2 separate regions of the Homo sapiens genome follow, and region 2 is linked to region 1. The links come from fine-mapping of genetic effects on gene expression. A gene starts in region 1. The other region holds a variant in brackets. All regions are shown on one strand. Distances are from middle to middle.

The links. PIP is the estimated chance that this variant, and not a neighbour inherited with it, causes the effect.
Region 2: its variant is fine-mapped to the expression of TXN in whole blood (TOPMed, PIP above 0.99).

What each region holds. Positions count from the first base shown.
Region 1 is chr9:110,255,025-110,257,933 of GRCh38, forward strand. TXN (thioredoxin) reads right to left here and starts at 1,483. Exons shown (of 5, transcript NM_003329.4): 1 at 1,388-1,483. The coding sequence starts at 1,411. RefSeq lists enhancers at 675-1,004, 1,747-2,909, 1,875-2,074, 2,115-2,164 and silencers at 1,075-1,324, 1,495-1,734.
Region 2 is chr9:110,316,648-110,319,556 of GRCh38, forward strand. The region is part of intron 4 of TXNDC8 (thioredoxin domain containing 8); the gene reads right to left. Among named protein-coding and RNA genes, the nearest start is that of TXNDC8, 20 kb to the right of the region's middle. The variant T/G (reference allele first, on the strand shown) is at 1,389.

The DNA.
Region 1 (2,909 bases):
AAAACTGATTGAGAGGAAGATAAAAGATGACAGTGGCAATCAACATATGAGGAAAAAACACTGAGAGTCAATAATAATCAAAGGAACAAAAGGATCGGGGACACATTGCAGACACACTTCTGTTTCCGAAGCCCACCCGGCACCAAACAGGTCAGGGCACCCGAGGCGGGCGAGGACCCGCCCTCCTCTGCTTCCCGCAGGTAGGGAGGGGTAATCGCAGGGTAGGCGCTGGCGAGGGGTCTTCTACCGTTCGAGCAGTATCAATTTCCTCCACTCACTTTTCTGACGCTGCATTTAACAAATATTTCTGGAGTGGCTACATTGGACTAGACACTGCGCGTTAGGCTCTGGGTTTCCCAGTCTACAAGGTTTTAGGCTTGCAATAACTTTCAAACATGGGAAGGCTGTTTCGCCTTGGGCATTTTTAAGAGGACAAAACAACGATCGGGATACCGATAGGTCGGCGAGCAGGCAGCAGGGCGCGGCTGCTCCCAGGAGGAACCCTGGCTCCAGCAAAACCCACCGACTGAGGGTGAATCATGGACGGGCAGGGCAGCCGAGGCCCCCGGGCCCAACCTTGGGGACTCAGTCATTCCAAAGCCACTGCTGCCGGAAACGCGCCCTGCGCCACAGGAGTCCCGTGGGCGCGGCCCGGACCTCACTTCCTCGCGGTCACCTGGGGCCCTCGGGCCTCCTGGACAGACCTGCACGTGCCAGGGGGTCTCCAGCCGCAATCCGCCCCCTTAGTGCGGATACAGCACGCGTCACCTTTGGGGTCGGGCATGGGTGGAGGCAGGCGGGGGTCTCCGGCCTAGACCCGCTCCCAAAGGGAGATCACTACCCCCGCTGCGGGTGGATCACTTCACATACGGAAAGGCAGCGGCGGCCACCGACCCGTGCCTTCTGCAAGGGCCCTCCCTATCCTTGCCTGGGGCCTGAATCTGGATACAGATGGGGGGCCAAGGGCGGACCCCTTCCATTCCCTCATCTTCCTCCAGTCGGGGCTGCCCGGACGGGAGGGTGCAGGAGGCGCAGCGTGGGGACTCCTCACGCTGTCTGCGCTCTCACATCCCCCGGACGCTCCCCGCGTGCGTGCAATCCCCCGAGGAACAGGGTGCGAGAAACGCTGGGCACCGCCACTCCGCCCTCCAGGGGACCCTCGTCCTTCTCCTCCCTTCCTCCAGGGCAGGCTCCACCGCCTCGGGCGCGCCCAGGCCGCTGCTTCCCGCAGTCCCAGGCCGAGACGCCGCGTCCCTTTCCCCTGGCGATGCGGAGGGGCGGCCTCCGCACCTCCCGCCACCGCCTTCCCCACCTCCCGCCACCGCCTTCCCCAGTTACAGAGGCCGCGCGCGGCGCCGGCACCCTGGCCTTCCCCGGTAGCGCGTACCTTGCTCTCGATCTGCTTCACCATCTTGGCTGCTGGAGTCTGACGAGCGGCTGTAAGGACCGATGGAAATGGATCCAAAGCACCAAACAGAGCTTCAAGACTCGCTGCTTGCTCTCTCCCTTTATAAACTGGCACGCCCGGCGTGCGTGTGGCGGGGGCGCGCGCGCCCGGCCGGACCTCCGCGCCCGTCGCTGCGCCCCGGCCACGCCCCGCCCCTGGAGCCTGCGAGCCGGGATCGGGGCGGGGCTGGCGCAAGCGTGGGGCGGAGCTCCAGGGCTTCGGCTCCTGTAACCCCAAGCCCAGCTCGCACTCCAGCTGGAAGTGGGGATCAGCACTGCGCGTGACGGTGGGAGGCGGGGAGACGGACAGTCACCCCCAGAGACACAAGGTCCCTCCCGGGTCACCTGGGGATGCGTCCGCCGGGCCTGAATCGAACACGCCCACGCTCGAGATGGGGACCGCCCAGGCAGGGCTGGATTCCTCGAAAAGGGCCGCCACGCCCCGGCCCCCCCAGCCACGTGAACCCCACAAAGTGCTGAGTAACGGTGACCGGGAAGTATCTCGGTGTGTACGTCCTTGCCTCCTCTCCGGAATTTACCGTGACCGTTCTCTTCTCTGTAACCTCCTTCTGTTCTTTCATTTTCACTGCTGAGCCCGCTGCTCCAGCTTGACACAGCGGTTTAGTGCGGTAGAAACGACCGGGGGACTGGTTGGGCTCTTGACCATCAGACAGCTGCGTGTGAGATGGAAGTGCCACTGGGTTGAGCTCTGCAACTTAGTTACGCAGTTGTGACCCTGGAAAGGTCCTGACCTCCTGAAGTCTCAGTGTTTCCTTCTGTAGAACGGGAATCATGATGGTCTCAATCTCACGGTGGTGGTATTTTGAGGGTTAATAGTGCTTGCAAAGGACGGTGCTTGGCACATAGTAAACACTCCATAGATAGTTCTTACTGTTCGGTGTCTTGCAGGGACTGATTGGGCCTGGCCACCTTATACAGCATTTACAATGGCACAGCACGCACACTTGTGTGAGATTCTTCTAACAGAGGCAGACTCCTGGAACAGAAGTCGGAGTTTGCATTGATCCAGGAATGCCTGTTGCAGGTTATGTCTGGCAGGGCTGGGGATTGTGGAAGGTGGGTATGTTAGCTGGCCTTGTGGAGCCAGGAGGGCCTGTCAGCGGCTGGAAGTGGAGGTTGAAAAGCTGCTCACAGGAACGAGAGCTAGAAGGCTGGGAGGGAGAGTCCCAGGTCTGTGTTTTCAGAGCTGAGCTGTTCCCGATGAAGCTGCAACTAGGTGTGATTGCCTAGGGGTGGTGATACTGCTGCCTGGCTGCCCCCTGAAATCCCTGGCTTCCTTCTTTCACTCTTTCAGACAGAGGAAGGGAGGAAACCAGAGGTTTTGAATCTATTGTGCAAAGTTTCTAGGGGGCTGAGGAGCACGGAGCATGAATATGGATATAGGCAAGGGACACATTCTAAAGACAGCCCATAGGGAGGGAAGACAGACTGCCCTGAATGCA
Region 2 (2,909 bases), 62 kb after region 1:
CTTCTCAACTTGTTCTAATAGTGCGATACCAGCAAAATACAAATTTACTTTCATTTTCTTGTAGCTGATTTAGAAACTCTACTTACAGATCTGATTCTTTGAGCGTTGGTGGCATAAATAATGCAAGAGTGCTTTTCTTCTGTGTAGGGGTTGACAAGCTTTTTTTGTAAAGGATCAGATAATACCAGCTTTAGGCTTTGCAGGCCATTTGGTCTCTGTTGCAACTACTCAAATTTGCTGTTGTAATGCTAAAGCAGCTAGTGACAATTCATAAACAAATGGGCATGGCTGTGTTCCAGTGAAAGTTTATTTACAAAAACAAGTGGAGGGTCGGATATGGCCCTGGGACTGTTCACCGACTCTTATTCTGTGCCATCAACTGAAGTTGTTGAGGCTTCATGCAACTGCCTAAGAGCTAGGTAGTCAGTACAATGTGGCTTTCTGTGGAAGGGCAAAAGCGTGTGCATCTAATGTCGTGGGAATTCACCTCAAGCCACACCTTGAACAGGAAAACTGATTTTGGACTCTGGCTAGAGGAGATGTCATTTTTCCCGTTTACTGGAAGTGTAGGGTGAAACTTTATTCTCAGGGATAAACATGGTTTGGGGGCCATTCCCTTCAATGGCTCATATACTTGTTCTCATGTTTCCACTGGAAAATCTGCTCAAATGCCCAGTTTTGAGAAAATATGCCTGTTTCCTATATCCCTTCACTTCTCCCCATGTTTAGAGGTGAGCTTATCTGTTAAGCTGACACAAAGGAATGAACTTGTGCCTATCCTCTCTCCTTTTGGGGATGCTCTGCTCAAGGGACAGGTATGCTCTCTTCCCACTGTCTTTCTGCACAACACATGGGAAGTGGGCCCTAAACCTGCCCAGATAGATCTGGAAGGCCATCATACTATAGCCTCACTTTTGGGGCTTGATAGTTGTGCAAAGCAACAATACCTCTTTTACCTGCACAGGTAAGTTTCTTCTTTGCAGCCCCAGATTCTCCCACAGGTGGGTCACCCCAATGTCTAGGCTTTAAGGGAATAGTAGGAAGTCTGTTGACATAGATCCCAGCCACATTGTTCAATGAGCACAGTGTAGCATTATGACTACTTATAATAAAGGTGATATTGTGATTAGCCACGTGACTCCTTGGGAGAAAAGAGTTAATGCAGCAGGTCTGGTTGCTTTCTTCTTGTGTGTCTCCAAGAGAACTATGTTTGACCCTTCACCACCCCCTAGAAATGTGGCCCTCCAAGTGTTCCTTGTGTTGGTGATTGACGGACTTTGTTATATATTCCTGGAGGGATGGACCATGCCATGCTGGCGTGTCAAGTTGCTTTGCATACACATCAATATTGATGATATGCCCCTGGTTTTATTGTTGGGGTTCTGAGT[T/G]TCTATTGCCATGGCCTGTTGTGTAGCAATGGTTGCACAAGATAAGTGTATGTCACAACTACTCCCCTACTTCCACAAAGACCTCAGTCTCTGAGCTCCAAGTGGTGTTCCTAAGTAGGGCCATACCACATAGCTACCGGAAGTTCATTGCTAGAGAGAGAGCATTCCTATGTGTCTGACAAGGAAAGACCTCAGAAGTCTCTGCTGGACCTTTCTGGACTCCATCAATGCATATCTTTTTTTTCTGCGCTTTTTCTCTGTATTCTTTGCTGTACTAAATCTTAGTTATGAATATAACTTGTGATTGGGTCTTGTAAGTCCTTCTGGTGAATCACCAAACATATCACTCCTATATTTCAACAACTTAAAATTCAGAGGAGAAGAGCAGGGTAGGTACTGGGGTAAAAAATTTAAGGGGTGGCCAGGCGCGGTTGCTCACGCCTGTAATCCCAGCCCTTTGGGAGGCCGAGGCAGGTGGATCACGAGGTCAGGAGATCGAGACCATCCTGCCTAACACGATGAAACCCTGTCTCTACTACAAAAATACAAAAAATTAGCCAGGCATCATGGCTGGCACCTGTAGTCCCAGCTACTTGGGAGGCTGAGGCAGGAGAATGGCGTGAAGCCGGGAGGCGGAGCTTGCAGTGAGCTGAGATAGTGCCACTGCCCTCCAGCCTGGGCGACAGAGCAAGACTCCGTCTAAAAAAAAAAAAAATTTTAAGGGGTAGCTGCCAAAACTCAGTAATCAACATAAATATTATGTTAATAAGTATTATATAAAAGTATTAAAACTCAGTGCAAAAAATACATGATGAACAAAATATCAAAAATTTAAATAAAGGTAAGATTTAATCCTGCACTTGTCATATCCTGACTTGCTTGCTGCACCCTAATCCCTGCCTGGGAGAAGAGACACATGTGAGCCTTTGAACTGTCAAAGCAGAGAGCAGCATCTTTAGCAAAGGTGCTGAAGGTTGCTAGATGTTTCTAAATAGTTACTACACTTTGCCCACTTTTGTTCCATCTCACTTAGTTCTTGCCCCCCGACCCCCAGTCAATCTCTGCCAGTGCATCAACTGTTTATGGAGTTGATAGGAACCCCTTTTAGGGATCTGCACCCTTTAGAGTCCTGCACGTAAGAGGTTTCTTTTTTTCCTCATGCAGAACATCTCTGTGTGTAACACAATCCTTGACAGGTTAAATATTATTGGGTAGGCAACCCCTGAATGCTAAGATGACTTAGCTTAAATGGATGTTGTAGTTATTGAAAGAGCCTTAGAGGTCTTCATAAACTTTATTTCTAAATTACTATTTATTTATACATTTTCAGAGAGATGGCCGTGCACAGCTAGATCCTGGGACTCTAATGATAGCTACATCTTCTAGTATTTACCAAGTCCAGTGCTAGGCACTTTAGATACAATATCACAAATTTGTCTGACAGTTGTTTAAACATAGGTGGTGTCCTCATTTTACAGAGAAGGAAACTAAGCCTCAAGGTGGTTATGGTACATTGCCACT